Regions from separate parts of the Homo sapiens genome. Here regions 2, 3 and 4 are each linked to region 1. Evidence: fine-mapped expression QTL. A gene starts in region 1. Each other region holds a variant in brackets. All regions are shown on one strand. Distances are between the middles of the regions.

Region 1 (8,246 bases):
ACACCTGGCTAATTTTTTTTTTTTTTTTTGGTAGACATGGCGTCTCCCTATGTGGCCCTGGCTCGTCTTTAATTCCTGGGCTCAAGTGATCCTCCCGCCTCAGCTTCCTAAAGTGCTGGGATCACGGGCATGGGCCACCACATCTGGTCTATAACGTAGGTTTTGAAGTCAGGCTGGGTTTGAATGTCACCTCTGCTACTAGCTAAGTGGCTTCCACAGGTTATTTAATCTATCTGCACTTCAGTGTTTGCCATCCATAATATGGGAATATATGCCATCACCTTTGCTGTGTTGTTGTAATAATTAACCAGTACATCATGTGCCTAGCATATATGTGCTAAAAAAGTACTAGTCCTTAAAACGATGCTCTATAAATCTGGGACATAATGGTAACCAGAGCTGGCTAAGGTATATATGTGTGTGAATATAAGAATAGTTTCCAGCTAAATAAAGTAAATAACATGGTAGAAGTGATGCTCTCACCATTGCATTTTTCTTTGCCGCTTGTCTTTTTAATCTTCTTCCTTCCCGTCGACTGTCTTTCTTTAAAGCAACTGCAATTTCTTCCCTTACTTCCTCACTGTCTGTTGCTATAATTTGCCCATTGTGAACCATCTGTGAATTCTGTCTTAGGTATTCCATGAATCCATTCACATCTTCATTTAAGTACTCTTTTTTCTTTTTGTTCTTTTTATGTTTTGCTTGGGGTGCATCATTTTTGAGGGATAGCCTATTGGCTTCAAGTTGTTTACGCTTTGGTAGGTTTTGGCTTGTTCCCTCAAAGGATCCCTTCTTCATGTCCTCCCATGATGTTGCAGGCAAGGGTCTCTTGTTATATGTGGTACTAACTCGGGCCCACCTGGTCATAATTTCATCAGTGGTACCTTATCAATTTTTAAGACAAGCATGGGTGGTTAGCCATCAACAACAAAAACAACAAAACTAAAGAGACATGCTATATCACTATATGTCACATATGCCCATATGTTAAACTTTTAATTATTAAAACACTTTTTATTTCAGTTAGATATCTGTATACATATTTAATGCTATAATATGCTGCATAGACATGCTTCTAACATAAATCTACCACTTACCAGAAAAGCTGCCACACCAGTTAAAAAAGGTGTGCTTAAAATTGAAAAACTATCTTAAGAAACCAAATTATTTCATAAAATATAAATCAGATAGTAATACAATGAATGCAATTATTCCTCCCACATTCTGCAGTTTTCCCGGCTGTTTATTTTCCTATCTCCAAGTCCCACAGCTACTTTCTCCCAATCTTCTTGCTTCGTCTGCCATTTCAATGCAACAATTTGCATAGCAGATTACTAAGTATACAGAAATCATGTCCTTTAATATGAAGTTTGTTGAAATTTCCTGGCAAAGTTATAAGTAAAACATATAAAAGTGTTTACCATCACAGGATGATCCCGGGCTTCCTCTTACTAATCAAGGTATAAGCTACTTCCAGCCCAGTGATTTCACATCATCTTCAATTCTATTTAAATTATGACTTGAATCATAAGATATATTTCACACCAAAATCTGTATCTTGTTTTTATACTCTTAATACATATGCTTTAATATTCAGAAATAACTTTTCATTTTAGAGCACATACATAAAGAAGTAATTTATCCTAACACTAATGATTTGGCTCCAACATAAAATGGAAAAAAGTTTTGGTCACTTACATACTACCTAGTGATTTGGAGGATATTTTTTTCCTGCAATGAATGAGAACATTCAGCCATAATCAAAGATTCATCAGCTAGTCACATGCTACATAACATTTAGGTCAACAGCGACTGCACACATGATACTGGTCTCAGATGATTATAATGGAGCTGAAAAATTCCTATTGACTTTGTAGCCCTCATAACTTGTAGTGTAACACATTACTCATGTCTGTGGTAATGCTGGTGTAAACAAACCTGGGATGCCAGTCATATACAAGCATAATGCTTACAATGATGTACTGTACATAATACTAGACAATTATAAGTATTCCAGAAAAAAGCAGTTATTATAGGAGATGACAGCTCCATTCATGTTACTGCCCCTGAAAACCTTCCAGTAGGACAAGATGTGGAGGAAGAAAAGAGTGATATTGATGCTCCTGACCCGGTGTAGGCACAATGTGTGTGTCTTAGTTTATAACAACAAAAAAAATTTTTACAGGAAAAAGCTATAGAATAATGTAAGGGAATAAAGAAAATATTTTTATATAGCTATACAACACATTAGCATTTTAAGCTAAGTGTTATTACAAAAGAGTGGGCCGGGTATGGTGGCTCACGCCTGTAATCCCAGCACTTTGGGAGGCCAAGGCCAGGTGGATCACAAGGTCAGGATATCGAGACCATCCTGGCCAACATGGTCAAACCCCATCTCTACTAAAAATACAAAAATTAGCTGGGCGTGGTGGCGCACTCTTGTAGTCCCAGCTACAGGCGCGCACCACCTGGGAAGCTGAGGCAGGAGAATCGCTTGAACTCAAGAGGTGGACGTTGCAGTGAGCTGAGATTGCGCCACTGCACTCCAGCCTGGGTGACAAGAGCAAAACTCTGTCTCAAAAATGAGAGACAGAGAGAATAAACTCCGTCTCAAAAAAAAAAAAAAAAGGTCAAGGAGTTAAAATTAATTTAAAAGTTTATAAAGTTAAAAAAGCACAGTAAGCTAAGGTTATTACCTTATTTTTAATAAACTTAGACTAAGCATACCGCATTTATAAAGTCTACAGTAGTGTACAGTAATACCCTAAATAATATCGTAGGCCTTCACACTCACATACCACTCACTGACTCACTTAATAGCTACCGACAGCCCTGCAAGCTCCATGCGTAAGTGCCCTATTCAGCTGTACCATGTTTTCTTTTACACTATATTTTTACAGTATCTTTTCTGTGTTTAGATACACACCATCCTTTTACAACTGCCTACAGTATTTAGTAGTTATACTGTACAGGTCTGTAGACTAGGAGTAACAGGCTATCCCATACGGCCCAGCTGTGTAGGTTTGTGCAAGTACACTATGATGTTCACACAACCACGAAACGGCCCAACCATTTCTCATAACTATACCAGTTCTTAAGGGGAGCATGGCTGTATTAAGCCACCACCTTTTTTGTTGTTGTTGTGGTCGTTGTTGAGACGGAGTCTCACTCTGTAGCCCAACCTGGAGTGCAGTGGGCGATCTTGGCTCACTGCAACCTCTGCCGCCAGGGCTCAAGCGATTCTCGGGCCTCAGCCTCCCGAATAGCTGGGATTACAGGCGCGTGCCACCACGCCCAGCTAATTTTTTGTATTTTAGTAGAGAAGGGGTTTCACCATGTTGCCCAGGGTGGTCTCGAACTCCTGAGCTCAGGAGATCTGCCCGCCTCGACCTCCCAAAGTGCTGGGATTACAGGCGTGAGCCACCGCGCCCGGCCTAAATTATCACCTTTTAAGACCAGCATCCCTGGCAACCCCCCAAGTCTCAGCTCCTAGTAACAGAAAGACCCCTTCCACAGAAGCTGAAGGGTGGACCCAATGAATTGGTGTGAGAAACTCCATGCCACTTTACCAGCGCACTCTTCGCTGAAGTTTATGCGACTGTCATAGTGGGGACCGAAGCTGTTCAAAAGGAAGTAGATTATCCTTCCCCTACGTACGTGGGAAGGGGGAGGCTCTGGGTTATCAAGAGGGTGAAGTGGGAGAGCCAAGCGGCCCACCCACAGGCGGATTCCAGGGCGGCTGGACGCACAGCCCCCAGCAGCCGGAGCCCAACAGCTGAGGTCGCCGCCCCTAGACAGCCCGCGCTCCAGCCAGCTCAGGGACCCAGCGGCTAAGCCTTCTGTCCTCCCAGCTTCCCACGCAAGTTCCGCCAGGCCAGAGGGAACGAACGACGAGACCCTGCAGCTTTGGTGGCTGAGAACCTCACCTCACCGCGCTACCGCGCAGCTTCTTACCGCGCACGAATCCCCCAGAGCAGCCGAGTTGGCGAGCCGGGGAAGACCGCCCTCCTGCGGTATTGGAGACCGGAAGCACATAGTGCCCGAGAGCGCGTCACTTCCGGCGTCACAGACGGTCTTTACAAGCGACTCGTGGGCGTCAATACTGGGCTGAGTTTGTGGCGCGCTTAGTGATGGGATGGCCCTGTGCAGGACGCCGACACGAAAAGATGAAGAGTTCAATCCGTGCTGTCTGAACTCACAGTGTAGCAGGCGAGATAGACGGGAAGATCGGTAGGGTGGGAGATGCCGGAAAGGCTTCCCGTGAGACTGGATAAGAAATCAAAAATCTGGTGAAATTGCCGGCAAGAGGGAGTTAAGGACATTCCAGGCAGAGGCAAGGTAAAGGCGCGGTGGGAGTGGGTCACTGTGATAAAAGTCTGAAAAGGACATTTGGGGGCTCTCTTGGGTGAGAGGCAGTGCCTCATGTCCCCCCTTCAGTGCTCGTTGAGCATTCAATTAAAATGTTAACACTTTGTAGCCAAACAAGTTCTCTTTTTAAGAGGAAAACCCTGGATTTCCAAACGGCTCATTTTCTGTAGCTTCTTGCAAATGGATACCACCACCAGCTGTGCCTAGTGAAAAAATGCAATTTACCAGGACCACTACTCTCAACAGTTTGCTCAATCCATTTAACCTTTTGAATATTTGTCCACTTCTTTTTATCTCTGTTGGCACCTCCTCCCTTGTCCCATATTGTACCTGTAGTTCTACAACTGGTCTGGGGATTCATTCTGCCCCAACTCCCTGAAATCCATTTTCCGTGTCGTAGGAACGGAACTTTTGAAAATGTAAATCATTACATTTAAAGCAGTACTGCTGTACTGCTTTAAACTCTCCCTTCGCTTCCCATTGTTTTAGGATGAAATTCGAACTCCTTATGAAGTCCCTGCCTACTTCCCTAGCCTCACCTTGCTCAGTCTCTCCTTTGAGCTCCGTGCATAGGATCATTTTTTCAATTTCTCAAATGCCGTGTGTACCTTGCCATCTCCAGGCCTTTACATTTGCTAGTCTCTTTGTATGGTACTCCTTTTCTTCTTCCAGTTACTTTCTACTCACCCTTCAAGGCTTTAAGTATTTTATTCTCAAGAAAGCCTTCCAGCCCCCTACCCCCATACTAGACCAATCCCCTACTGTGTGCTCACGGCAGTCTATACTTTCTTATGACACGGTTCACATTTGTAATTACACAATAATTGTGTAAGTTTATTGTATCCTCATTGCCTGGTACATCCTTGGTGCTCACTGCGTATTTGTTTTTTTGTTTTGTTTTGTTTTGTTTTTTGAGAAGGAGTTTGGCTCTTGTCGCCCAGGCTGGAGTGCAATGGCGCGATCTCGGCTCACTGCAACCTCTGCGTCCCGGGTTCAAGCGATTCTTCTGCCTCAGCCGCCCAAGTAGCTGAGATTACAGGCGCCCGCCACCGCGCCCGGCTAGATTTTGTATTTTTAGTAGTGATGGGATATCGCCATGTTGGCCAGGTTGGTCTCAAACTCCTGAGTTAGGCGATCCGCCCACCTCTTCCCTCCAAAGTGCTGGGATTACAGGCGTGAGCCACCGCGCCTGGCCCTCGTATTTGTTAAGTAAATGAAGAATAAGTACTTTGCGATGTTTGTTTAAAGCAAACTAGAAAGTGGCCCAGTTTTCTTTAAGAGAAGGGATTTTAAAGTCAGTGCTTGTAGGAATGTTGAGATTTGGTATGGTACATATCACAAATACCGTAGTTCATATGGTGGAGAAAGTTTTAAAAGACAACAAACAAACAACAGCAACTTCCAGCTCTTGAAGATAGGGAACTTCCTAAAAGATGTGTGGTAGTGCTGCCCATACTGTAATGATCTCAACCAGCTGGTTTCAGGGTAGTGACATTTCATGAAGAGGTTTTATCTTTGGTAGATGCAAGGTACTTACACATAACATACCACTAGAGGGCGCATTTAACTAAAACTTTTCTTTTTAGTGGTATATTGCATTTTAAACTGTAGGTCGTTCATTCTTGGAAGCAAAGGAACATACCGATTTCTTTTTGTAGCGGTATGTCCAATAAAGATTAGTAGTTGAGCAAATAGGGCGTAGAATAAGTCCTTTGGAATTCGGAGGAAACTATTGCTACTAATAGCTAACTTTACTGAACATTTTATAGGTGCCAGCAGTATGCTTAATGGTTTGCATTCGTTACCTAATTAGTCCACTCAGTATTCTGTGAGGTTGGTACTATTATTTTCTCCATTTTGCAATGAGGGAATAAATTCACAGAGCTGACGTAACTTATCCAAGGTCAGACAGCTAATAAGAGGTAGAGTCAGGATTTGAACCAAGATCTCAATCCAAACCTGTGTGCTCTGCTACTTTGAAATACTGCAGAGGATTGTTTGTCTACTTGATCCACTTTAAAACACTTTACTAAGTTATCCTTGCCCAAATTCGATTTTTTTTTTTTGGAAAGTATTTACTTTTACAGTTCAAGGGATTATGTTTGTATTCAGTTTTCCCATCTACTTATTGAAATACTGTAAATGTATTTTTTATAACAATATTATCAGGAAGGTAAATGTTAAATAAGGAATTCTGGTCGTCTTCTCAATTTTCCTGCTGCTGTTTCTTTTCCAGTCCTCAAATTGCTGATTTATAGCTTGATTCACTGGCAGAGACAGTGGAGTGTGCTTATTCCATATTACCAGGAATTGAAACCACTACCATTAGAATTTTAAATCTTCATTCTTGCCCAGATTCTCTCTGAATATTAGGCGCTTGGCCACCCTAGATGAAGTGACCAATAGGTGATGAGGACTAGAAGTGTCCAAGGCCCAGCCTGGGTGGACCATCCCTCTAACTGACTCACACATTAGAGTGAACAGCCTCCAGGCAGCCAGTTTACCTATAGAGCAATTTGGAACGGAGAACAGTGAATCTGGAAAGGAAGGCTGGGATGAGATTTTGCCAAATTAAAGTGTTTTTAAATGTGAAATTATAGTGTTCAAACTTTATCCATTAGAGCTTAAGCAATGAACAACTGTGGATAGTGTTTTAGATCATACAGGAGATCCCATAAAATAGATCTGGAGAAGAGGATTGTGTGGAAAACTGTACCTAATGCATTCTCCGGGCAGTTATTGAACTTTTTTATAGTATGCAGAAAAATACAGCAGAAGAGAGAGGAAAAAAATTAATGACCCTGCTGTTGGAAATAAAAATAAGATCCAGACCAGTGACATTCTGACATCTTAAAAACCTGTCAGTGATATTTTTAGCTGCTTTAGGATCCTTACAATAAGGCCCATGAGTAATAGGATTGTGAGGGTTTTTTTCTTTATACATAATTTTACAGATATTCTTTAATGGGTGTGTATTACATTTAGAATCATTATTAAAGAGTTATTTTTAATCCATGGGAGTTTTGACACAGCACATGAGAATTTCTAATTATAGACTCATAGAAATACATACCTCTTAAAACCCTATCTTCTTGTTTTACAGATCAATAAATTAAGTTTCAGAGAAGTTAAGTGATTGCCATAGAACACAATGCTAGTGACTGAATTTTGTTAACTAACATGCTTTCATTTGCATTGTTGGTTTTCTCAGTAACAAAATTACAAGCAATACTGCTTTATTTCAGAAGTGAAAGAAAATCTATTGGAAGTGTGGAGCAAGAGAAACCTATTAGTGGAAGTTACTTGAGGTTCCTAGGCAATAAGGAATAGGAATAATATAAAGTTTGTGTTACCCTCTGAAAAAGCTTGAATCTCTTTCATCTTCTTTGCTTAAACGTGATAAAGAATAGTGTTGGAACACTAATCACAAAAATGATGTATCCTTCTGACTCATCTTACCATCTTGTTGTATTTCTCAAATTTGAGTTCCTAATCATGTGTTTCGGTGGTTAGGATGTTAAGTGCTTCAAATGAATACTTAAACCTAAATTACAAACAAGTGGCAAGATTTGCAAGCTCTCCTTTATTCTCTGAAATGCGTACTTCCTCCTCCTTATGTCTGAGGAAATCATACCAGATACGGGCCTTAGACTGTCCATTCCAAGGAACAATGAGAGGTCTTGCAGTTACAAATGGAATTCTGTAAAATAGGATAGGTGAGGAAAAAGCACTTTTTGATGTCTACTATTTGCCAGTACCTTAAGTGCTAAATATATACAAATGACAGAGAGGTCCCTGCCCTTAAGCAGCCAAGAGCCTGTGAGAGTAAGACAGATTGCTAAACCACTAATAAGCTGATGTTATAATTAGTGAGGGAA
Region 2 (8,246 bases), 920 kb after region 1:
CTTATACTCAAGAAAAGACATCATGTTTCCAAACATTGGAAGAAAGACTTTTAGCTTGCTTCAGGTGAGAAGAGAAGGAACTCACCACAGAGTGGCAGAGACCAAGTCCTGGGGCATGCAGTGACTCTCTCGCTAACTTGGCTGTGGCTGTCACAGTCTGAATACAGTGAGAAGATCTCTGATAGGTGTGTCTCTGAGACTGTCTGGAGCCTCAATGCCCAAGAGGCAGGCTCCAGGCTCTATAACAGCATCCTGGAGTCAACAGAGCAATGACAGCAAACATGAAGAACAAAGGACCAGCTCAACCTCTTGATTTTGACATTACAGAAACCCAACATTGTTGTAGGACCCCACCAAGGGGGCAAAGGGAGTCCCAAAAATGATTGTTTGGATTTTCCCTTCAACTCAGAACGGATTACATTTGATTTAAGAAATGTGGGAGTGTGATATTTCTTGTACCCTGGCATTTTAGAATAAAACTCATGCTCATTATATGTAGTTTTATAATAGTGATCTCTCAGCAAAAAGCATATATACTAAGTAGAATTCTGCCCTCTATCATGAGAGCTAATAATAAGGCTCTCATCAGTTTTTTGTCTCAGATTTTTATTATTAATTTATCTATTTGAGACAGGGTCTGCCTCTGTCACCCAGACTGGAGTGCAGTTGTGTGATCTCAGCTCACTGCAACCTCTGCCTCCCAGGCTCAAGCCATCTTCCCACCTCCGCCTCCCAAGGAGCTGGGACTACATATGCGCGCCACCACACCTGGCTAATTTTTGTATTTTTGGTTGAGACAGGATTTCACCATGTTGCCCAGGCTGGTCTGGAACTCCTGGGCTCAAGCAATCCTCCCACCTTGGCCTCCCAAAGTGCTTGGATTATAGGCATGAGCCACTGCACCAGGCTTGTCTCTCATTTTTAAAGATTAGCTGATACTTCTTCCTTCTTGAAACCCTCTCTTCAATTGGATTCCATGACACCACATTTTTTGCGAAGCTCTTTGTAAATTTCCTGTGTGAGCTTTTCCTCCATCAGAACACAAAATGACAGATCTCCTCAGGGCTCAGTTCTAAGGCCTGCCCCTCTCCACCACCACACCTAGATGACTTAATCTACTGCAGGCTGCAATTATCACCATGTGCTGAAGATTCCCATGTCCCTTTTCTGAGCAACGGACCTTTATATTCAACTAATTGCTGACAATTTTTACTTACATTTCTCATGATAACGTGTTATAATACTTAGCACAGTGTCTGTTACATAATAGAATCTCAATAAGTATTAGCTAATTGACAAATATACTTACACAGTACCATTAAAAAGATAGACATATAGAATTCCCTTTCGTTTTTGAACTTAGCATTTTTGTGTATGTTGTATAACCTAATAATGTTGTGTCCTGTGGGAGAAACAAAAGAACTAAAATTTCCCATATTACAATTTTAAATTATTATCTTTCTCACCCAACCAGTTTTTCTCCAGTGTCCACTGTATTTGTGAACTGTACTCACTTATTTGCTCAAGACAGAAATTTGGGAGTCACCCACTTTGCCTCCTTTTCCCAAACCACTACCCACCCGCCACAGACACACACAGACACACAGACACACACACTCTCTTATTCACATGCCGATGAAGTTTCTTCTAAACATGTCTCCAATCAATCCTCAAAGCATCAGCCCCCAACCCTCTTGATTTATTGGGGGCTATGTGATCTGATTTCTTAGCCATCATCCTCTCCCTGACCCCAGCTTCTCACTATAGCCAGGGTGGCTTCCATGTTCTGCAAACAGGTCAGTCTCTTCATAGTCTCACAGTCTTTGCTCTTCCCTCGACTTGGAATGTTCTTCCCCATCTTCCCCCACTTTCTCTAGGCTTTTAATCAAAAAGTCCTTCCTTAGTGAGACTTTCCTGATTATGTTATCTAAAAATTTAACACCTGGCACTTAACATCTCCCTTTCCAACTAATTTTTTGTTACCTTAGACCATCCCATATCTTTTACCTGCTTATCTTGTTTGATATCATCTTAATAGAAAATAAGCTCCATAAAAGCAGGATTTTTTAGAGTCAGGCTCTCACTCTGCTGCCCAGCTTGGGGTGCAGTGGAGCAATCATGGTTCACTGTAACCTCAAACTCCTGGGCTCAAGTGATCCTTCTGCCTCAGCCTCCTGAGTAGCTAGGACTACAGGTGTGTGCTACCATGCCCAGGTACAGCAGGATATACATATATATATATATATATATATATATATAACATATATATATAAAACATATATATGTTATATGTGGATACATATATATGTATTTATATGTGTGTGTGTATATATACTTATTTATTTATTTTGAGCTAGAGTCTCACTCTGTCTGTGGCCCAATCTCGGCCCACTGCAAACTATGAACTACTTTCATAGTTGATAGATCAAGGAAAGCAGGTTTAAGTGTGTTTGAATTTGGCAGTGCCATTAATAGACGATTTGAGAATAAGTAACCACATTGTCAGGGCTAGGGGAAGGGGTAAAGGCAGAAGTTTGTGCTGGGGGTATGTAAGTAAGAAAAAGTCTTATCTAACGCATCATCAAGTTAAAAGACAATGTCTAAACTTGATGTATCAAGATATAATGTATAAGTGCATTATTTATAAATATGAAGGTTACTAACAAGAACTGACACTGCGAAAGAGTTGGGTAGAATAGCTTCCAATTGGAAAAAATGGGGCAGAGGACTGTTCATTTCTATTATAAATGTTATTGTACTCCATTGCCTTATTTACAAAACGGATATAATAATAGTACTTACTTCATATGGTTGTGAGGATTATAAGATAATTTCCATGAAAGGCTAAAAACAATACTTGGAACAAATAAAAACTCAATCGCTATTAACTATTATTACTAATACTTTTAAAGTTACTTAACGTACACATACATTATTTTGGTTAAACTTTTTTTTTAATTTTACAAAAGTGAGGAGTTGACATCACTGAGCAAAGATTACTGTTTACAGAATCTAGCTAGATTGGATTTTTTTAGGTTAGTTTCCTAAATTCAGTTAGTTTTAGTTTAGTTAAGATTAGAAAAACAAGTTTATAATGTAAGGGGTTGATGGGTAAGATCTGGTGAAGTGCAAGAGGCTTAAGGTTTACAAATTAAAATATATAATTGATAAAATAAGATCATGCAGGAGGCAAAAGAAGTTGAATTTTAAAGTTGATGGAGTATTTTCGTTTCTTTTAAAAAAGTATCCCACTATACTGTGACATCTTTGAGATCAGTGTCTTACTTATCTTGTCAGTCACCTAGGATATGTCATAGTACCTAAGACAGAGTTGGCATACTCTGTTTATGAATGAACAAGTGTGAAAAATAAGAATGAATCTAGATGTCCTCTTTTGAGTGGAGTTAGCTGAATTGTGGTATTCATAATAAAAATAATAAGAGTAATAGGTTTGATTTGGGAAGAAGACGATGAGTCCATATTTGGAGATGTTGAGTTTTGAGTTGCCTGTGGAGATATCCAACAGAGATTTAGAAGTTTGAGCAGAGGTCAGGAGATAGATTTGGGATCCATGAGCATATAGGTAGGAGTCAAAACTCAGGATTTAATTGTGTAGGATTCTTAGTTACAAACAACAGAAACCACACTGGATATTTTAAAAGGAGAAAAGAAATTTACCAAAAAGATATTAAATATCACAAATAATTTTCAAGAGGGCTGGAGAACTAGCCTCAGGTCACAGAGAGAAATAGGATCCAAAATCCTGCCATAGAACTGATATGGTATTACTGTCACTAGATATTGGAGATTGATTGCAGCCCTGTTGCCAATGGTGTCCCAGGAATTTACCTTTCCACAACCTCTGTCTCTTGGAAGCCCTTATGATTGCTATTCCACGTTGAGTGTATATGATTGATAGTCTTGGTTATACACTTTTATCCTGTCCTAGCTATAAAGAAAACTGAGAAAGATAATTCCTAGCTTATTTTTTTTCTTTGAGGGAGAAGTCAAACATTACCTTCTACCAAAGTTTATAAGATAGAGAAATTATCTGAATATGGGAAAAGGATCCAGCTACTAGCCATGATAACAAAGTTTTACTATAGAGGATATAGAATGGAAGAAGAGAGTCAAAGATGTAACCCTAGGGGAAGACCAACATTTACATGGTGGACAGAAAGAGAACCCAACAGAAATCACAGAAGGACAAAAGGACTAGGTTGAGAATTAGGAGAGCTAGTTATCATGAAAGTCAAGGAGGAAGAGATTTACAAAGGTCAACATTGTCAAAAGGAGCAAAGAGGTCAAATAAGATAGAGCTGTCGGAAATTTTCTTAAGATCAGTTGCAGTGAATAGACTGGGGGTAAAGGAGGAAAATTCAAAGATTGAGGAGAGAATGGAGGTAAACAAGTAAAGTCAGGTAGGAACCAGTCTTTAGAAACTTTGGTTACGCAGGAAGAGGAAAGCCAGGATCTAAAAGAAAATGAGTAAAATAATTAAGTTATGTGAAATAGGAAGGCCTTTTGGCAGTGAAGGCCAATTTAGTTAAACGTATTAAGTTTGAGATGTTGGCAAGGTTGCGGATAGGCAGACAAAAACTTGTTTGAAGCATAGGTAAGAGAAGTCAAAAAAGGATCTTTAGCTCAGAACTGAAGGTTATTTGCATAGTAGTCTTAA[T/C]TGAAACTTAGACAGTGGAAGCGCTGAGAGAGCAGAAAAGGAAGAGGAAAGGCCTGAAACAGAAAAGTGCCTAGTTAGGATGTGGGTGCAGAATAAAGGAGCAGAGAGGAAAATGGTAGGTGAACTTGGCACCTGTAGTGCTATGGTTTCAATGTTTGTGTCCCTCCAAAAATCACATTGGAACCGAAGACCCAACACAATATACTAAGAGGTGAGGCCTTCAGGAGGTGATTAGGCCCTTATAAAAGCTTGAAGGAGTGAGTTTGTCCCTTTTTAGCCCTTCTGTCCCTTCTGCCATGTGAGAACACAGTTTTCATCCCCTCCAGGGGACACAGCGACAAGATGCCATCTTGGAAGCAGACAGCAAACCCTGGCGACACTGAACATGCTGGTACCTTGATCTCGGACTTTAGGACTGTGCAAAATACATTTCTATTATTTATAAATTGCCCAGTTTAAGATATTTTGTTATAGCAAGAGGAATGGACTAAGACACAGGGTGACTCTGAAAGGGTGGGCTGAAAGGGCTTTGGGAGAAAGGAGTGACCCTCTGGGACCAGGGAAAGTCTAAGAGATAGTCACATTTTGGCATATGCTTGTAGGAAATCTGTTTCAATCCATTGATCTACCAGTACCATGCTGCTGAAATTAATAAAGATTTATAGTAGATTTGTACATTTTTAATGTCTAGTTTGGCTTATTTTCCATAATTCAATGGATAATTTTTATACAGCAGATGCTATTTGTCAAGCATTCAGTTTATACAAGTGCCAATTACATATCTGTCTGTTTAGCACAACCACAAAATAAATGGTTTACATCAATTATTGTATTAATAGTACCCAAATGCAATCTCATCTAAGTAACTTCTAGTATAACTGCTAACAATATATAATTAACATAATTATAATGCTATGTATATAGCAATATTCCCATAATGTATCAAAAGATTGCTAGCTTCTTTTCTGTAAATCTGGCACAGAATTAAAATTATGTAGCCTAATATTCAGCACCAATATCATGAAAATGACTAAGAAGTGCCTGACTGTACTTAGCATTCTGCGTAAGTTCTAGGCTATATAATATTAATGACTTTGACAAGAAAAAGAGCTGTAAAGTAATATATTTCTTGTATACTTCTGCCAAGATATAAACTTCTGGCAAAGTCCAACTATCATAGTTTTTTGGGTTGAAGTTAAAAAAAAAACAACTATTATTCCTAAACTTTGCATAACAAATTAGAATATACACACAAAAGAAAGGAAATTAAAAGAAATACATCTTAAATATCAATTGCTTCTGCTTAACAACTGGTTATTGTCATTTCTTAAAGGACCACACTTACAGATTCTATTTTTCCTTAGTCAATCTGTTTCCTTTTTAAAATATTTAGTTTGTTAAGTAGATTTTCAAGATTCTTTCTAAATCATGTAATGTCCAGAGTTTTAGAATGTTGGCCAGTAAACACTTGATATACTTTTTTTTTTTGAGACAGGATCTCACTCTGTTGCCCAAACTGGAGGGCAGTGGCTCCATCTCGGCTCACTGCAATCTCTACCTCCCAGGTCCCAGTGATTCTCCAGCCTCGGTTACCTAAGTAGCTGGGACTACAGGCACATACCACCACACCCGGCTAATATTTATTTGTTTGTTTTTTTGTTTGTTTATTGTATTTTTAGTAGAGACAGGGTTTCACCATGTTGGCCAGTCTGGTCTCAAACTCCTGACCTCAAGTGATCTGCCCAGCTCAGCCTCCCAAATTGCTAGGATTACAGGTGTGAGCCACCACGCCCGGCCAACACGTCATACAACTTTTAAATACAATTTGCAAATGAAATTTTTCTTTTTATTTATTTATTGTTTTGGAAATGGAGTCTCACTGTTGCCCAGGCTGGAGTACAGTGGCATGATCTTGGCTTACTGCAGCCTCTGCCTCCTGGGTTCAAGTGATTCTCCTGCCTCAGTCACCTAAGTACCTGGGACTACAGGTGTGTGCCACTACACCCAGATAATTTTTTGTATTTTCAGTAGAGATGGGGTTTCACCATGTTGGCCAGGCTGGTCTTGAACTCCTGACCTCAAACGATCCTCCTGCCTCAGCCTCCCAAAATGCTGGGATTACAGGCATGAGCCACCATGCCCGGCCTGCAAACAAAATATTTCTATACACAATACCAACATATCTTTTGTAGAGTGTTTTTCCATGAGGTTTGATTACATAAGCTAATCCTGAAAATTAGAAATACCCAGAAAACAGGCAACTTCTCAATTTATGTTGACATTCAGTCTTTCTTAAAGGACTTGATATAAACATCTTTAATTCTGACATGAATTGGATTTTTGTCTAAGTAGCCAACTCATGATAACAAAAGATGGCATTTTAACAAGTATTTTTATGCAGTTTGACATAAGGGATTTTGGATTAAACCAATGCAGCCCTTGGGAGTAAAAATTTGGGAATTTGAATAAACAAGATCACGTAAAACATAGCATTTTGAAGTTTTATGGCAGTGGTTTTTGAATGAAAAACTTTTCCTTGAACAATTTCTTTATTCTGTGTTGCAGTAGCTTTTTTTCCCTTCTGTGCCTGAGCAAGTGATTAACTTGCCTTTGATTAGCTAAAGGCACTTCTTTATTATTCATCAAAATGCGCAGAAATTTAAAAATGTGTGAACTTATCAGTAAACCATAAACCATACAACCATACTGAGAAAAAAGTTATTATAGCTATTATTATACCCTATAATTGTAATTTTAATCTTTTGTCCCTTAAACTGTCAATCAATATAAATAATTAGGTGTCTACTGTTTCCCAGACATATTCTGTACATATCATTTAGGATTTATTTATTTATTTATTTAGAGAGGGACTCTGGTTCTGTTGACCAGGCTGGAGTGCAATGGCACAATCTCAGCTCATTTTAACTTCCGCCTCCTAGGTTCAAGCGATTCTCCTGCCTCAGCCTCCTGAGTAGCTGGGATTACAGGTGTGCACCACCACACCCAGCTAATTTCATTGAGAATTTAGAAAACAAACTAATGGTACTATTTCTTAGTGTTTTAAATTAGAACATATCTTGCCTCATGAAGCTTTAAATTATTATTTTCAGTTTCTCCCCATGAAGCGCTCTCGTCTGACATTTGTTTGGAATCGTACCACTGCCGGTCTGCACCAGATGTACCGTCCTTTCAAATATGATTTTCTGTTGTACCTTGTAGTGAATTCTGCAAATCATCTTCCCCACCTAAAAATGTCTGAATGCTAACACGAATAAATTATATAACATGCAAAAATGTATAAATAAATAAAAAAGAAACAACATCTTTTTTTTTTTTTGGAGATAAAGTCTTGCTGTCACCCATGCTGGAGTGCAGTGGTGCAATCAGAACTCACTGCAGCCTCAAACTCCCTGGTTCAAGCCATCGTCCCACCTCAGCGTCCTGAGTAGCTGGAACTACAGGCATGCACCTCCATGCCAGGCTAATTTTTTTTTTTAACTTTTCTGTAGAGACAGAGTCTTGCTCTGTTGCCAGGGCTGCTCTTGAACTCCCAGCGATCCTCCCACCT
Region 3 (8,246 bases), 61 kb after region 1:
CTTCTGTTAGTGAAAAGTGGCCTGCTGGCCTATGCTGTGGAGGACTTGCAGAAAACTTCCCAGTCACCGGCAGACGGTTGACATCTCCCCTGGTTCCTCCCCAACCCGTTTAGTGTGAAACGGGACAAAGGGAAACATTTCCTTTGATCTATTTTTGGGGAAAGAGGCAAATGTCAACTAAATAAGATCATATTAGGGACTGGGCATGGTGGCTTATGCCTGTAATCCCAGCACTTTGGGAGGCCAAGGTGGGCGGATCACCTGAGGTCAGGAGTTAGAGACCAGCCTAGCCAACATGGCGAAACCCTGTCTCTACTAAAAATACAAAAAATATTAGCCAGGTGTGGTAGCACGCGCCTGTAATCCCAGCCACTCGGGAGGCTGAGGCACGAGAATCACTTGAACCCAGGAGGCGGAGGTTGCAGTGAGGCGAGATCACACCACTGCACTCCAGCAGCCTGGGTGATAGAGACTTGACTCAAAAAAAAAAAAATCCTATTAGGAATTTCATGAAAGCTCACACAGTTCTTGCACACATCATTCAAGGCCTGTTATGGGGGCCCAGAACATCAGGACACAGTAGCTAGCCTCACATTCAGCTCCATTGCACTAGAGCTTTGCATGATCTCAATTTGAAAAACACACATGTATATCCTACATTTGTATCTCTATTCTAATATTATATACTGTATATGACTTTTTAAAATATTGGTTTGCTGTTTCTATTTTGTGCTAATGCAACAAATCTAATTTGTTTTAGAAACAGTTATTACTGTTTCTTGCTTCTTATCACCCCCTACCGTTTGGACTCTGTTGTCCATCTTTCTCTGCCTAATTGGACCACAGCCTGGTGCCTCAATCCCCACAAAATCTGTTCCCTTCTAGCTCAAGATGACTGCATTCTCTCTCAGTTCGCAGTGTACTCATGGGCTGCTCATTCATCTGCCCTTGTGCTCTGTGCCTTTTTGGCATCTGCGGGTAAACTCAGTGCCACATATCTCTATTCTGTTCACTCCTAATGTTTGTATTGTCTTCCCAAGGGACCTCTCTTATGGCCCTGCTGGGCTCCTCCCCTTACCCACATGTGCCAAGCATAGAAATCAAGGCAACATTCTCAGTCCCTTTAAGGGAAGTTCCAGGTACCTAGCTAGTCCTACAGCCAGCAATTAGGGAAGTTAACGAATAACCTGCTAAACAAGAAGATAATAATTTAAAAGCCACTCAAGTAAGTCAGAGTCACAAAATGTTTGATTCCCTGTAGAAACTAAAGATAGCATCTTGACCTATTCCCTTGCATTGCTTTTCAGAAAACAATTCCCACACCAGATGGAAAATGCTGACCACTGTCATAGAACTCAGACAGACTGAAACCAAAAAATAGATATGGAAGTTCCAGAAATTCCCTAGCTCTTAACTCATTTTGGATACCCCCTCACTCCTGCTTTAAAAACCCTTGCTTATAAGCCAGCAGGGAGCTCAGGTGTTAAGTGCTAGGTACCCATTCTTCTTGCTTGGCACCCAGCAATAAACGCCTTTTTCTCACTACAAATCTCAGCGTCAATGTTTGGCTTTTTTGGCATGCTGGGCAACCAGAACCAACCCCATCTTTGTGTGCCTGCATCCAATTCTGATGAGCCTATGTATGTCAGGTTGGTCAAGGCCCTTTGTGCTGAACACCAAATCAACCTAATTAAGGTTGATGACAAGAAACTAGGGGAATGAGTAGGCGACCTCTGTAAAATTGACAGAGAGGGGAAACCCTGTAAAGTGGTTGGTTGCAGTTGTGTAGTAGTTAAGGACTATGGCAAGGAGTCTCAGCCCAAGGATGTCATCAAAGAGTACTTCAAATGCAAGAAATGAACAAACCTTTGTCTCACAAAAAAAAAGCCCACAAACTTTTGAATGAAATCTACTTATATGATGTGACACACATTTCTTTCAGACATGGATTTTGAAATCCTATCAATAAAAGCCACCAAGTGAGACACTCAGTTCTGGTTTTGAGCATGTACCTGCTCCGTTTCCTGGTATCTGCAAATTAGGGTGGCCCAGTGCAGGCTCCTGACCGTTTGACCATGACAGGCTGTCTGAACCCTGGGAGCTCATCGTGCCCATCGTCAGAGATGTCCGTATGTGACACAGCAGAGACTACCCCACAGATAACAGACGAAAGCCAGCAGAGTACAAGGCCTAAATGTGCATGTCCTTCTGTTTCCTTTTTTTTTTTTTTAGGGGTTCTGACTGAGCAGGCAGATTGGAAAGGAAGAATCAGATGAGGAGCAAGTGCTAGGTGTTGGGGAAACAATTTAAATTTCCTCCCACCCCAGAAATTCCTCTCCATAAAATATAGGAAAAAGAAAATATTTTATTATTGAATAAACATTAAACTAGTGATGCACATCTTTAGCATTCTGCTAAGGAGATTGCAAAGACAGACATCCCACCCTTTTATGTGGGCAAGCAAATAGGACCCATTCATTACATACATGTTCTCGAACTAAAGTAAGAGGACTTGACAGCACCATTTGTCAAGCATAATTCATCCTAAATTCACCTGGTGACCATTTGTGTTCGCTAATTGCCTTTATCAAAAGGAAAAATAAAACTCAAGTTTCTAGGACAGCAGGTAGTTTTACAACTTGGAGCCAGGTGCTTAAATGAAACTACTACCCACTGCCCTCCCACTGACAGTGGGAGGTAGGGAGCTATCTTCCTTGATGTCTGTATTTTCAAAGAGATGGTTTCCAGGCCCTTGCAGGAAAAGAGTCCTAGGTTGTAAAATCGACTGGAGCCTTACTTAGCTTTTAAAAAGATTTATATACATTTCAAAGGGGCAGCAAAATATAAGTTTTCTAAAGGAAATGCTCTAAGAAAAAGGAGGAAGCTCTTCCCCTTTTTGCATGGGCTTGTGGGGTAACTTACATTCTGGAATTCACGAGGAGCAGGAATTGGTTTCCTCCCTCCACGTGCTGGAAGGCACAGTGTAAGAAGCTTGGCAAGGCTCCAGTCGGGTGGACAATCACTGGGAATTCCACGCATCAAAGGGACAAGGGACAATCACTGGGTCCATCCTTTACTTCAGAGGGACAAGACCCAATGAATGTAGAACTGGGCCACAGTTTGTCTTGGTTCTTAAGCACGCTGGCCCACACATGATAGGTTATCATTAAATGTCTGATGAGTAAGTGAATGAATGTCAGGAACCTGAGAGGCTTTAGAGGTCATTTACCTCAGCTGAAATTCAGGCATCCCTTTCCCTCAGCCCTCCTTAAATACCAGCAGTCCTGGGGATCCCACCACTTGCCACAGCAACCCATTTTACTGTTGGATAACTGTAATTATTATAACATTTTTAATATCTGAATAAGGAGAGAAAACAAAATTCGAGTGCTTTCAAGGGCAGGGTACTTTTTTCAAAACAATCCCAAGAAGTAGGTATCCCATGTCACAGAGGAGGGAACTCAAAAACAGAGACATTAACTAACAGCCCAAGGTCACACAGCTAAAGGGAAATCATATGTATCGAGTGTCTGTTCTGCACCAGGCACTCATTTAAATAAAGATCCTTTCACTCACAATAGTTTACCATACAAATATTACAGCATGTCTAGATGGGGTCTTAACCATACCAAAGTACTGTATTGCATGCCTCCATCTGCCCTGGGACTAGGACCAGGTCACACACTGCAAAGGATTTGAGTGGAAACGATGAATAGACCCCTGCACACCCATGTGCATCAATGGAGGACTGTGGATGCCGTGTGCCCCCATTCCTCTGGGCCATTGTCATTAACCCTTTGTCTCCCAAGGAATGGAGCTGCCAGAGAGTTCCAGCTGCCTCAGATCCTCCCTGGTCTCTCAGGTATGCTGAGTGTTTTCCCTTAAGCAGGGTTTCCATAGGCTGATGCCGAGGGGAGGCTAAGTATGGGGCCAAAATGCCCACAGCACACAGGTGTCACTCCAGGCAGCACTGAGGGGAAGCAGAACCAGGGGATGGCTCTTGGGGCCTTCCTTCGCAGGAACACCACTCACTACAGGCTTCCAGGCGGTCAGCGGGTCATGTGAGTCAAGGGCAAGTGGGTGAATGACACTGATATGTTTCAGGTAGGGAGAAGCCATGGTGGGCAGCATTGGAGGGAGGGGAAAGAGGGGGTGAGGAGGGGGTAGAGATATGTATTTGTCTACTTATTCATCTGATGACTATTTACCTACTATGTGGCAGCTTTTCCAGAGTCCTTAGTCTGAGGAAAAAAACGCTGTGTGCTCGTGTTATTCCCATTTTACAAGTGAGCAGATGCAGGGAGAGAAAGGCAAAATAACTCACCCAGGACCACATGGTTTGTGAGTGGCAGCGCTGGGATTCTGGCCAGCAGTCATAGTCCACACTCTTAACCACGGCCCTCTGCTGGGCAACTAGAAATTGTGTGTGATTTGTGCTCTACTTGGGGAGCCAGAGCCTGTTGGGGGGTCCTGGGAGGGCATGGTTGGCTATGGGACAGACCATTCAACGATGTTGTTTGAGGAGCCTTGTCAGGTCTTAAGCATACCAAAGTACTGTATTGCATGCCTCCACCTGCCCTGGGACTAGGACAGGTCACACCCTGCAAAGGATTCGAGTGGAAACGATGAATAGACCCCTGCACACCCATGTGCATCAGTGGAGGACTGTGGATGCCACGTGCCCCCACTCCTCCCTCCCCAAAGCTGCTTTCCAGGCATCTTCCAGGTGGGGAAATGGCCATTCCCCTCAGCCCAGAGCAGACTTAGCCTGCCCTTGAATGCTGCCAAAAAAAAGAAAGGGCTAAATGTGTCCCCTGTTCTATTCCTAGTCCAGATTCCTAAGATGAGGACACAGCATCCTGGGCCACTGTCACTAATACAAATTTGCCTCTGGAGGGACTCTACGGAAGATAATTCCCCTGAAATTTGGAGAGTTGAATTAAGCTAGGACTGATTCTGGCTGGAATTTGTGGTGGCTACGTACCCTAGAGGGCCTCAAGGAAACCCACGGTTCAAGACAGCCCTGACAGATTCTGGAGTCTAGAA[C/T]AGAAATGGATTTGAACATGGGCAAGGCCAACCACCCAGTTCACGGCCTGTGTACAGCAAAGATTACGTTACAGCCTGAGAGCTAAGCCTGGAAGCTCTTTCATCCATCCGTTTGTCCATCTATCCATCCATCTGCTCATCCATCCCTCCATCTGCTCAACAAACGTTAGAGAATCAATCCTTGTGTCAGATACTGGGGCTGCCCTCAAGGAGCTTTTATAGAGTTCAGGGTACAGCCAGGTGGGGGAGACAGATCACTATAAAAACCTACCACTATAATCCAAAGGACAAGAGCAAAAATAGTAAAGAGGAGAGAAGACCCAAATTTGCCTGGTGGGTCAGAGAGGGCTTTCTAGAAGAGGTAAAAAATCTTCGGGGCTATCACTTCACCTTGCCTGGTGGATAAAGGGAGGACTTTCCAGATACAGTGGACAGAATGTGCAGAGGCAGGAGCCATGAGTGGCAGAGGCAGGGGAGGGACTGCAGAGACAGGTTGGAGCCAAAGCACGTGGCACTGGAGCCATAGCCAAAGGAACAAACTGTGAGACCTGGGACTTGAATTTGGAGGTGGTGAAAAGTGACAAGGTCTTCACAGAAGAGTGATTTTTTCAACTTAGGGAAGGCTGACCCCAGACCAATGCTGCCAAAGTGTGGTCTGTGGGCTGTTAGCAGTTCGTGACGATGTAAGTACAGGAATTGAGATTAAGCATTTAGAACACCTACAGCACTTTGATAGTCATTTTACTTTTTAAATTTTGAGCTGGCATTTTATATGCCTGGTTTTTTTTTGTTTTTGTTTTTTTATTTTTTTTGAGACAGTCTCGCTCTGTCGCCCAGGCTGGAGTGCAGTGGCGCGATCTCTGCTCACTGCAAGCTCCGCCTCCCGGGTTCACGCCATTCTCCTGCCTCATCCTCCCAAGTAGCTGGGACTGCAGGCGCCTGCCGCCTCGCCCAGCTAATTTTTTGTATTTTTAATAGAGACGGGGTTTCACCATGTTAGCCAGGATGGTCTCAATCTCCTGATCTCGTGATCTGCCCGCCTTGGCCTCCCAAAATGCTGGGATTACAGGTGTGAGCCACCACGCCCAGCCTTATTCTCTTTTTCTAATAGTTGCACTTTATCATATTTTACAAATGTGTGAGTCTGCTATGGATTAGAAATTAATAAGAGATTTTGCCACAGATAGTTTGAGAAGCCCAGCACTGCCACTCAACAAATGCTGGTGCATTCAGATGGTGAAATATTCTGCAGCTATTAAAGGAGTTAAAACTGCCTCCACTTACCTGGAGGCCCATCTGTGACACCTTTTTAGGTTAAAAGGAAAAGAAAAACTTGCTTAGGACTGAATATGAGCGGTTGCAATTTGTAACAATGATGTATATATACATATACATTTTCATGTATTTGTATGAACATAAAAGTATTGAAGGATATTCATCAAACTGCTAAAAGGGTTGCTTCAGAGTAACGGACTCGGAGAAGGCAGATTAATTTTCTCTTAATGGAACTCTGTATTGTATCACTTGTAAAAATAAGCATGTGTTATCTTTATGATAAAAAAGTAAAAACCTAAAAAAGAAAATTTTGATGTGTGTTAAAATTTTGGATTTCTAGGCTCCACCTTTTTTGAATGAGTCTCTCCAAGAGTGGGGCCCTCACATGTATAATGAGAAAAAGCTCCCCGATTACAGGATGTTACCAAGCCCCGCTAGGTGTAGGAACCCTGCTTGGTACCCACCCGAGCCTCAGCAGCTCCTCCCCATCATGGGCATGATGAGGTCTCCCTGTGAGGTGTTGTGAAGACGACGGGACAGGCTGCAGTAGGCACTGAATAAATGAGTCCCTTCCCCTGATGACCCTAAGGCTATGGGATCATCATCACTCCCTCCCCAAAGCCACACCTGATTATTCCAGCCAGCACTCGGCCTGCCCCTTTTCTGAATGCTTTTTGATTTTAACTTACATTTTTCGCATTTAAATGTTTCATTTAATTTGAGAAAGAGTCTCGCTCTGTCACCCAGGCTGGAGTGCAGTGGTGCGATCTCAGCTCACTGCAGTCTCCACCTCCTGGGTTCAAGCAATTCTCCTGCCTCAGCCTCCCAAGTAGCTGGGATTACAGGCGCCCACCACCACATGTGGCTAATTTTGTACTTTTAGTAGAGATGGGATTTTGCCATGTTGGCCGGGCTGGTCTCGAACTCCTGACCTCAAGTGATCCACCTGCCTCAGCCTCCCAAAGTGCTGGGATTAGAGGTGTGAACCACCACAGCTGCCTTCTTTTAATTTGTATTTTCTATCTCTGCGGACAAGACTTCAAAGGTGTCTATCACATACTTTCAGATCTACTGATCATCCTCTGAAAACCAACATCGGGGTTCACAAAATGGATTTAACCAATTGGGCTCCCCAGTTCTTCTTCCAGACTCCACCCCTCCAACAGTGTCTCCAATGACTTCCTGGCATCACTGAACAGGTCCTTCACTTTGCCACCTCTGAGCCTTTGCTTGAGTGTTTTCTTTCCCCTGGAATATCCTTTCCAACCCTATACACCGACTGAGTCAAACCTTCTGTCTTCTTTTTGAGCATTTATGAGCTCCTATCATGAGCCATGCATTATGTAAGGGACCTTACAAACACAATCAGTCTATGTAACAATCCTGCCAAGTATGCTTTATTTTGGGCATGGGGAAACAGAGGCTCAAGAGAAGTGACCTGCCCCAGGTTTCAGTGCCAGCACACTAGTAGAGCTGGGATTTGAACCCAGGTTTGTCTTTTGCACTGGATTCAGCTTCCTTGCAGACCGCAGCACCTCACATACAGCCCTTCACTGACCAGCAATTGGAGGGAAACCACCCCTGTGGCTTAAAACCTGTGGTGCCACAGATCATTCCACTCAGTCAAACCCCCAAGACCGTAGAAGTGCATTTAACACAGCAGCTCCTAGGCACAGGATTGTCACCTCAGGGCATATGACTTCTAAAGTTGCAGATTATAAACTTGTTCTCTTTCCCTGTCCTCAGGCTCCCGCTGAAGTAACCCAGACGCCAGGGATATCTCTGCCCGCTCCACTCTGACTCTAGTGCTCAATGTGCCTGCCAGGCCTTGCTAGGGATGCTGTGCCAGTGTGAAGAGGAAGGTGGTCTCCAGCTCTCACCCCATAGAAGCTTTCTGCCTCAGTTTCCCTAACCTGGAACACCAC
Region 4 (8,246 bases), 71 kb after region 1:
GCTGACACTGTGAGGGGTCACGAGCCTGGCAACACTTTCTGGAAGGTCTAAAGGGCAGCACTGAGGAGACCTAAAGGTTTTGGTCTGTTTGTCAAATGTCACTCTTCCTCACATTCGGAGGAGAGCATTTGAAGGCAGACCACTCTAGGGGCAAGAACAGGACTGATTTTAACCCCGGGACAACCAACCAAGCAAGCAAGCTAGTGAAGAACAGGCCTCTGCCCAGGTGAAACACGTGGGGCCAATTCCATAGGTTTTTTTTTTTTTTTTTTTTTTTTTAATTAACCTCCGGTGGGAAAGGTAAGGATGGTGGGGAGGGGAGACGGTTACTTGTCTCATTATCAATGTGTTAGTATTAGTGACGGCAAAACTGAATCTCTAGCAATACTATTTGCCCGTTTAAACTGGGCCTGGCTATTGGGCTTATGAGCAAATAGCTTCTCAAAATTTTAATTTTCTAGTTAGTTCATCCCAAGTCACTGATTTACATGTCTTTTGAGACTGAGACTGCTGGGGAAAAACATTCCCAGAAATGAGTGGATTAGACTCTGTGAATTACAAGGGAAAGACACTTTAAGTTTAAAGTTGTCCCAAACTTAGCGTCAAAATACAGCCTTTAGATTTTTTTTTCCATCGAGAAAAATTCCTGATTCACTACCAAAAAGAGGCCCTGCAGGCAGCGTGCTGATTTGTTCTGCTCCTGGTGCTGAGCTGCCCCCACCTGTGTGCAGGGAGGAGGGGTCGCTTCGGCCAAGGGCGGGAGCTCTGCTGGCTTTAGCGAGTCACCATTGCCTCCTCGCAGTCAGCGTCCTAACGGGGTCCCCGTCTACAGCCCGGCATCCACTCCTCCAAGGCCCTTCACACTGGCTCTAGCCATGACCCCTCTTTGGAGGAATAAAGCAGAGTTTCACGGACTCACCGACCTTGAAGCCGGAGCCTCCCACGTCCTGCTGAGCGCACACAGCCAAGAAGTGTATGCAGGGCGAGCTGGTCGGGCCGGCCTGGAAATCCTCCCTGGCGGGGCGGGGCCAGAGGACCTCACCAATCCCAGCGTAGACCTCCGGGCGCACCGGCCCCCACAGCTGTACCCTTGAAGGCAGGCCCGTGGGCGCTGGGCCCTTTATAGCACCTGCCCTTTCTCTGAAACGTAAAAGGCGGAGCCAGTCTTGCTTCCCAGGCCTGGTCCTGGAGGCTCCTTTGCCAGGGCTCTGGATCTCAGAATGGAAGGGCCAGCAGGTGAAATTGCACATCTGTTGGGGGATTTGTTTCTCTCTTCTCTCAGGTGTACCAGCCTTGGGGCCCTGGTGAGCTCTGGAGGATGAACCCCTCAAGCCAAGGTCGGAGAGGAGGATGTCTCAAGCTGCCTGGCTCCAGCAGCTGACCGGGCCCTGAGCCAGGGGCTGGAGGGACCTCCTTCCAGCGTCTTTGTCTGGGACCTGGATCCAGGGACAATTACAGTCAGGTTTCTGTTCAAGATCAGGCCCCCTGCAGTAGATGGCTAGATCATCTCGCTTTCTGTCCACACCAGCTTAACCCACGGCAGGCCATAGCCCTGCTTAAAAATAGCCCCGCTTGGGATATCCACCGCACGCCGGGAAGGCTGCCTGTAAATAGCAATGACCCAGCAGGATTTTGGACAGCAGCCCTGCCATTTCAAGGGAGCCTGCCTAGGCATCTGGTGACCGTCACGTACTCAGCTTCTGAGGCCACGTGGACATGACCAATTGGTTCCTGTCTCTTCCTTCTCAGAGCCCAGCTCATGCTCAGAGGACTTGATGGAGCAAGGGGTGGAGCCCCAGGAATAACCTTCTACCCAGTGTGGTTCTCCTTCATTCTCTGAAGGAGTTTCCATTTCTTTTAAACACGACCCATGTTTAAAAATATCATCTATTTTACCTTTGCATGGGGTACTGACAGGGAGAGCACGTGAGGGGGCCTTTTGGCGGGATGGGAAGTTTCCTGATTGGGGTGGTTATATAAAGATTGGGACCAATCAAATTAATTTCATAATCCTTTAAGGAGTCAAGACCCACCAGCTTGCATATTCTATCATCAGGGCAGTCTCGGTTTATTCCTTCTCAAAATAGCTCTTTTCCACACACACTTGTTTCAAGTCAGTTCAGGCACCAACTGAAATAAATCCATTGACCCTGAAATAGCCCAGCTCCCAGATCCAGAAAATTATAAGGCTTTTAAAGAGCATGGAATTGTAGATTTAAAGAATGGCAGTTATAGCAAAAACCTCCTTTTCCTCCCCAATTGCCTAATCAACATTTAGGGCCCCCTCCACTCACCCGACCTCAACACCTTATATTTTATAGAGTAAATGTTTATGTTAGTAAGGTCAGAAGAAAAATTGGGTCATTGTTGAGAAAAGAGGGTACCACCCTTCTTTTGGGGGACTGGTCCTCTTCAAGCTTATTATAAAGGTGGTGTGATGGGGATGAAATCTCTACAAGGGACTCACAGTAGAAATTCTGGCTTTCTGGAAATCTTTCAAATGCCATCCCTGTCACATGGCATCTATTCCCTTCTCATCGTTACCAACTCCTTTTGAAGCTCTGGGGCTCTAGCCACACCAGGCTGCCCTGTGGCTGGCTTCTGCCATAAGGGCAGGAACAGAATTGAAGTGTGCGACTGCCATATCATTTGCTTTAAAGGAAAATGTCCTGGACTTATTCTCTTTTCTGTTCCTGAGTCCAGCAGGAGTGTGGCTAGAGCAGGCCCCAGATTTGACCTCGAAGGCAAGGATGACGCCTTGTGGGATGAGCAAGTAATAGGATGAAAGGAACCTGGGTTCCTCTGTCGCACCAGCCTGGATTGCTCATTTCAGAATTGGGCAGGAGGGACCCCTTTCCTTAGTCTATTCTTGTGTCCAGCAACTGTAACTTAATTCCATCAGCTCTAAATGTTGCCACAACTTCATAGAAGTTAAAGTATTTTCATATATAGTAATCCATATAACCACTGCAGTTATTTTAGGGGTAGACAGGAGTCTTATTTCAGAAGCCCCTCCTAGGTGGAGCCTGGTGACTATTAGGCCAGGACTCTACCCTGGCGGCTTCTCCTCTCTCCACCACCCATTCAGGAGCGTTGAGCTGCTGTGCAATGGACTGAGCTGTTCCAGGTAGTAGTGAGTTCTCTGTGCCTGGAGGTATCAAATATAGGCTGGGGATGTCACAGGAAGAATCTAAGCACTGCAAAGAAAGTGTGATTAGTTGATCCTTCGTATCATTTCAAAGCTTTCCCCAAATTCTTTGAATTTTAGGGCCTCTTCTAAACTGTTTTTCTCCCTGAACTTTAGAAGTAATATTTAGAAGTAAATAATATATCTGAAGGAGTTCACTGCTATGAAGAAGATGTAAAATAAAAATAAAGCCCCTAGGCCCCCAAGCAAAACAAAACAGACTCATTGTGGTAAAAAGAGACCCCAGGAAACATTAAAAACCAGATTCTACAGCTTTGGCAAGGCAAGAGGTCAGTCACACCCAACGCTCTCCCACCTCGATAACTGCCTCAAGACTTTCTTTCCTAAAATTAAACTAAAACCAGTTACTGAAAAACTATGTCTGGAAGATTTCTTCCTCAACTTCAACAGACAACCTGACGTGGCGAACCCCCCCTTCCCTCAACGCAGTTTCCCCCTGACAAGTGTTCAGCCTTACAAAGCACTCCATCCTCATAACTGACCACAGACCACAGCCGGTTCTGGCC[G/A]GTTTACAGAGATTGCACACCAAGCGTCTTTGTGCCCTGTGTTCCATCTTTTGACATATAGAGCCCAATTTTACTACATTTTAAGTCTCCATCCCAAAGTGAACATGGGTTGTATGTAACATGTAACATATATGATTACTGGCTATGCATGCATTAGGGCCTCTCATAAATATTCATAAGATTATCCTATAACCTACTAAATGTATATGTAAGGCTCATCTTGTTGGGCATAAATCTCAGCCTCTCCCTTTTTTATCTGAAGTGCTTGCTTTTGGCTTTGGCCAGAGGCTCCAGCCTGCAGATTGTAACCCTTTATAAGAAATTAAGTTCTATTTTTTCTAAATGTATACATTTCATGGTTTTAAGTTGACAATGTAGAAAAATGGGGGGAAAAAGAGTTAAATGAAGAAACCAGTGAGATTTCTGAATATTCAAGAAAGGTGAAGTTTAATTTGCATATAGGCATAACCTACACCTCACTTGGCAAGTGTTAGGCCACAGCACAAACCCCTCTGTCCAATCACAAATGTCCACAAATTTGCAAAGTAACTGGACACGAACGATATGCTTCTCAAACTCACACACATATTCGTCCATCACACACACACTCAAATGATAAAGAAATACATTGAAATCCTCTACAAAAGAGATCTGAGGACAGTAATCAGATGACCTCATGTGCGGACAGCACTTTGCAGTTTACAGTCTAATCCATTTGGTCCTCACAATAGCCCTGTGAGATAAGCAGCACAGGGATTACTATTCACACCGTTTTGCAGATGAGGAAACTGAGGCTCAGGGATGTGTAAACACCAGCCTAAGGTTTTCCAGTTGGAGACTGGGCCTAGGACTCAGGGCCGGGATGCCTAGGCCAGCTCTCTTTCATAACTGGCTTTCTAGTGAAAAATGAAATGAGCTGTGTAAAAACCAACATCATTAAGTATAATAGAACTATTATTTTCCTTGAGCAGATCAGACTAGTGCTATCAATCCTAATGTTAATGTCATGCTGCATGGCAGCTGAGATGAATAATTTTCTGAATCGTTCATGTGTTTATACCTACAACAAAATGACTGTTTTCCATTTTGGCTCTGCCTCATCTTAATTTTAAGTCACCAATGGCCGCTGAGAAATGACACACTGATTAGATTTCATTGACTTAAGTCTTCTATTACACGGTGGTATCTATAATGGAGCCATTAAACTTACAATCTGATTTCTTACTGAAATGAAAAAGAGTTTTATTTATTGATTCCCTCTGTGCACATTAGCCTGGCTATACCCTTCAGCCATAAATAGTATGTTCTCTTTTATGCCTTTTCGATAGTTGTAAAAATAATACATTTTGCAATTGGATTTTTAAAAACCTTTATACTTTAAAGTGAAGAGATTTTTTTTCAAGGGGATAAAATCAAACTTTGAAAAAAAAAAGCTAAGTAAAATCTCTTGCTTTTAAATAAAAGTTAATTTTATTGGGAATAATCCCTGTATTGCATTACTCTTTTCAGTTAAGAATTTAAAAGCTGCCCAATCGCTGCTGGCCCAAAAGTCTCGTCTTATACAATAACATGAGAGAAAGGGTGCTGATCCATCATTATTCACTCCACATGGGACCATAATGGATTTTTCTCTTCCAGGTGATTCAGTTTCTCTGAGTTTCATTTGTTTATAAGTAGTACTTTAAGACGTACTGAAATTTAACAAACAGTAATGGGACTTGGTATGAGAGCCACTTGAAAATATTGCAATGGCCGTTTAAAATTCCGTCTTTAAATTCCTTCAGAAAAGCACTAAGGAAAAGTGACGACGTTTTACTTCATGCCTGAATCTGTCAAATAATATATTGGATTAGGTAAGAGATTTGTCCCTGTAGCAAAACTAGATGTCTCAGTTAATAACGAAAAGGCATCCCCTAAAAGCTCCAAGATAATTTCGTTGACAGTACAAAATGTGGGCATTCATTCGAAAGCATGAAATTGGATTTTTCTTCTGATTTTCTAGGTTAATTTTACAGTATACATGTTCGCTACTTGGCTGTTAGAGGTTGACCTCCCATCTCCTCTTAGAAATGGGTCTCCATAATGGACTAGAGGCAGATGCAGCTGGGAATGCATGCTTTGTGTGTAGGCAGAAGAGGATGGGTACTTTAACGACCAGAAAAAACACTGCAAATTGCTCTTGGGGATTTTTAATTTGACCAAATTGAAGGGATTTTAAAATGTGCATTCCTCTCCCAGCTGGCACACGAATAGTGCAGGTCATCAACAGACACTCCCTCAGAGGTGGAGCTCTCTCTCTTGCCCTCTTGCAGCTCCAGGAAGGCTGCAGACTCCAGAAAGTGGTGTAATTCTCAAACAAAAATGCGAAAGGCTAGTGAGTGGCACACCCCTGCAGTCCCAGCTGCTTGAGAGGCTGAGGCAGGAAGATTGCTTGAGTCCAGGAGTTCGAGACCAGCCTGGGCAACATGGTGAGACCCTGTTTTTCAAACAAACAAAAACCCCCTAAAAGTCAGCATAGCAATTGACAGTGCCTAATATGACCAGTGCGGGGCAGTTCCAACATCCTGCAGGAAATAGGCGCAAAAGCTTTGTCACTAGTTGAAGAAAAGCTGCGATCCAAAAGGGAAGGAGCATTTGGAAACTCCTGTCTTATTTTTTGTTAATAAGAATGGCTGCAGTGTCTCTGGAACATTTGGGTCAAAGAAATGAGTCCGAACTTCCAGAAAAAGTGCACACAGAACCATCCCTTTCCCTCTGAAGGACTCTGGCAACTCCAAGGCAGAGTAGAATGCATGCACCTTTCCACGTGTTGTTTGGCCCGAAACTAGTATGTGTGTGGTCCTCTCACAGATTTGTCCCGGTTTTAGTTCACCCTTCAGGACTATGCTTTTGAGCCATGAAAGCTAACCTTTACTTTTCTTCTGCAAGACCTTGAGGTGTTTGGTGCAACTGATACATATTATTTCAAACCCTCAGTTTCTGGAGCACTGAGAAATAAATCACAAGTTATGCGTTGTTAGGATCCAAACAGCCCATGCTTCTCATCATGCATCAAGATGCGTCAACCTCTTATTTGAAACTAAAGAGAACAAACAAGCAACTTTAAAAAAGAAAAAGAAAGCATCCATAAGGAACCCTCCTTGGGTTGAGTGCTACACTGTTGGCTAATATGAACTATTGAAAATATTTTGGGAATGGTCTTCAAATATTATATTTTCTTTTACTTAGTTGATATTTCACTATATAGTTACATACAGAGATGGCACTTACCGTGCAGAAAGTGTACATTCTCTACCTCTATGGTGCATTACCAATGCTAGCTCTTTCACTGAGTCTTAAGAGCCAGCAGGTGGAATTTATTAGTCTGTTAGCTCTAGCAACATAATTAAAGTGCAAGGAAAGAGGGAAAGCAGCCAGACAGATCCATTTTTCATTGTCAGCATCAATAAGTTTCATGCTGCTAAGAGAAAATGTCAGGTGCAACAGGTTCAGGGAAATAGAACTATATTTTTTCTCTTCCTTCTTTTAAAGCAGCAGTCTCCCTGAGAAGAGAAGAGGGAGGTAAACAATGAGATAGCCCTATTTCTTCAACAACTGACAATCTTGGGAAAAGGAAGGTCACTTCCCCAGCCTCAGGTAGCAGGACTAACCCTTGCATTTGGTTTTGTAATGTAAGAGCTGTTCGGTGGTTGGGCCCATTTCCCATGCACTTATAATATTCTCAGAGATCTCTCAACATCAGTTTTTAAAGAAAGAGATCTACGAACAGCATATGGAAGTGTGGGTTTTGAAAAGAAAATTTCACTAAACTGTTTAAAAAAAATACAGCCAATGTTCATAGTAAGCCTAAAAAAAGGTCTGTGTAAATGAGAATAGATTCCTGCAGTACTATGAGTGGGGAAAGAAAACAAACAAAGCAAGGTGCAGAGATGATTTTTAGGTATAGATTTTCACTCAGCACTGAAACCCATGATTCCCCACAGCACTTGGTGGCCTTCTGTTCCACAGTTTTGTCGGTGAGATGGGCGTGCACCTTTTTGCAGCTGCCTCTCCAAAAGGGCTGGCTTCTTAGGACCAACAGTCTCAAGGAAAAGCTCCCCACCCACCTCAGCCAGCCACTGTCTGGAATCCTCTGGGGCACAGCCTACTGCATTTAATTAAGGAAATGTTACATACAAATCCATTTGTGTTTCATTCTTTCTTTCCTATCCCATTGCCTAAAGACTGGAAAGGCAGTTTCAGAAGGTACCATTCCTCACATAGAAATATTTAGAATGCACTGACAACCATGCACATGCTGTAGACTGAAATTGCTTATGTTTTGGTCCATCTCTGTAGAGGAAGTGTCAGCTTTTCTGTGAAGCTTATACCAAAAGGAAATGTAATGGAACCAGTCAAATCCTAGAAGATTGGTAGGTGTGCCCAGGCCAGTAAAGCGCCAGAGAAACATCACAGGTCTTTTTCATGGATCCTTGTCCCTGAGTTCTAACAGAACATGGACAGAGTTTAAAATTTACCGATTTACCTGCTTT

Evidence for each region. PIP is the estimated chance that this variant, and not a neighbour inherited with it, causes the effect.
Region 2: its variant is fine-mapped to the expression of CKMT2-AS1 in kidney cortex (GTEx, PIP 0.94).
Region 3: its variant is fine-mapped to the expression of CKMT2-AS1 in whole blood (TOPMed, PIP above 0.99).
Region 4: its variant is fine-mapped to the expression of CKMT2-AS1 in whole blood (INTERVAL, PIP above 0.99).

What each region holds. Positions count from the first base shown.
Region 1 is chr5:81,297,379-81,305,624 of GRCh38, reverse strand. CKMT2-AS1 (CKMT2 antisense RNA 1) reads left to right here and starts at 4,056. Exons shown (of 2, transcript NR_034123.1): 1 at 4,056-4,338. ZCCHC9 (zinc finger CCHC-type containing 9) reads right to left here and starts at 4,038. Exons shown (of 6, transcript NM_001131035.2): 1 at 3,927-4,038; 2 at 484-884. The coding sequence starts at 867. RefSeq lists enhancers at 2,730-3,519, 3,527-3,706, 3,857-3,956, 3,520-4,309.
Region 2 is chr5:80,379,151-80,387,396 of GRCh38, reverse strand. No RefSeq gene overlaps it. Among named protein-coding and RNA genes, the nearest start is that of ZFYVE16, 25 kb to the left of the region's middle. The variant T/C (reference allele first, on the strand shown) is at 4,679.
Region 3 is chr5:81,235,944-81,244,189 of GRCh38, reverse strand. All of the region lies in intron 1 of CKMT2 (creatine kinase, mitochondrial 2), which reads right to left. It overlaps CKMT2-AS1 (CKMT2 antisense RNA 1), which reads left to right. Exons shown (of 2, transcript NR_034123.1): 2 at 4,835-6,625. Among named protein-coding and RNA genes, the nearest start is that of CKMT2, 6.7 kb to the right of the region's middle. The variant C/T (reference allele first, on the strand shown) is at 5,047.
Region 4 is chr5:81,226,055-81,234,300 of GRCh38, reverse strand. RASGRF2 (Ras protein specific guanine nucleotide releasing factor 2) reads right to left here. Exons shown (of 27, transcript NM_006909.3): 27 at 4,139-8,246. CKMT2 (creatine kinase, mitochondrial 2) reads right to left here and starts at 979. Exons shown (of 10, transcript NM_001099735.2): 1 at 924-979. The variant G/A (reference allele first, on the strand shown) is at 3,715.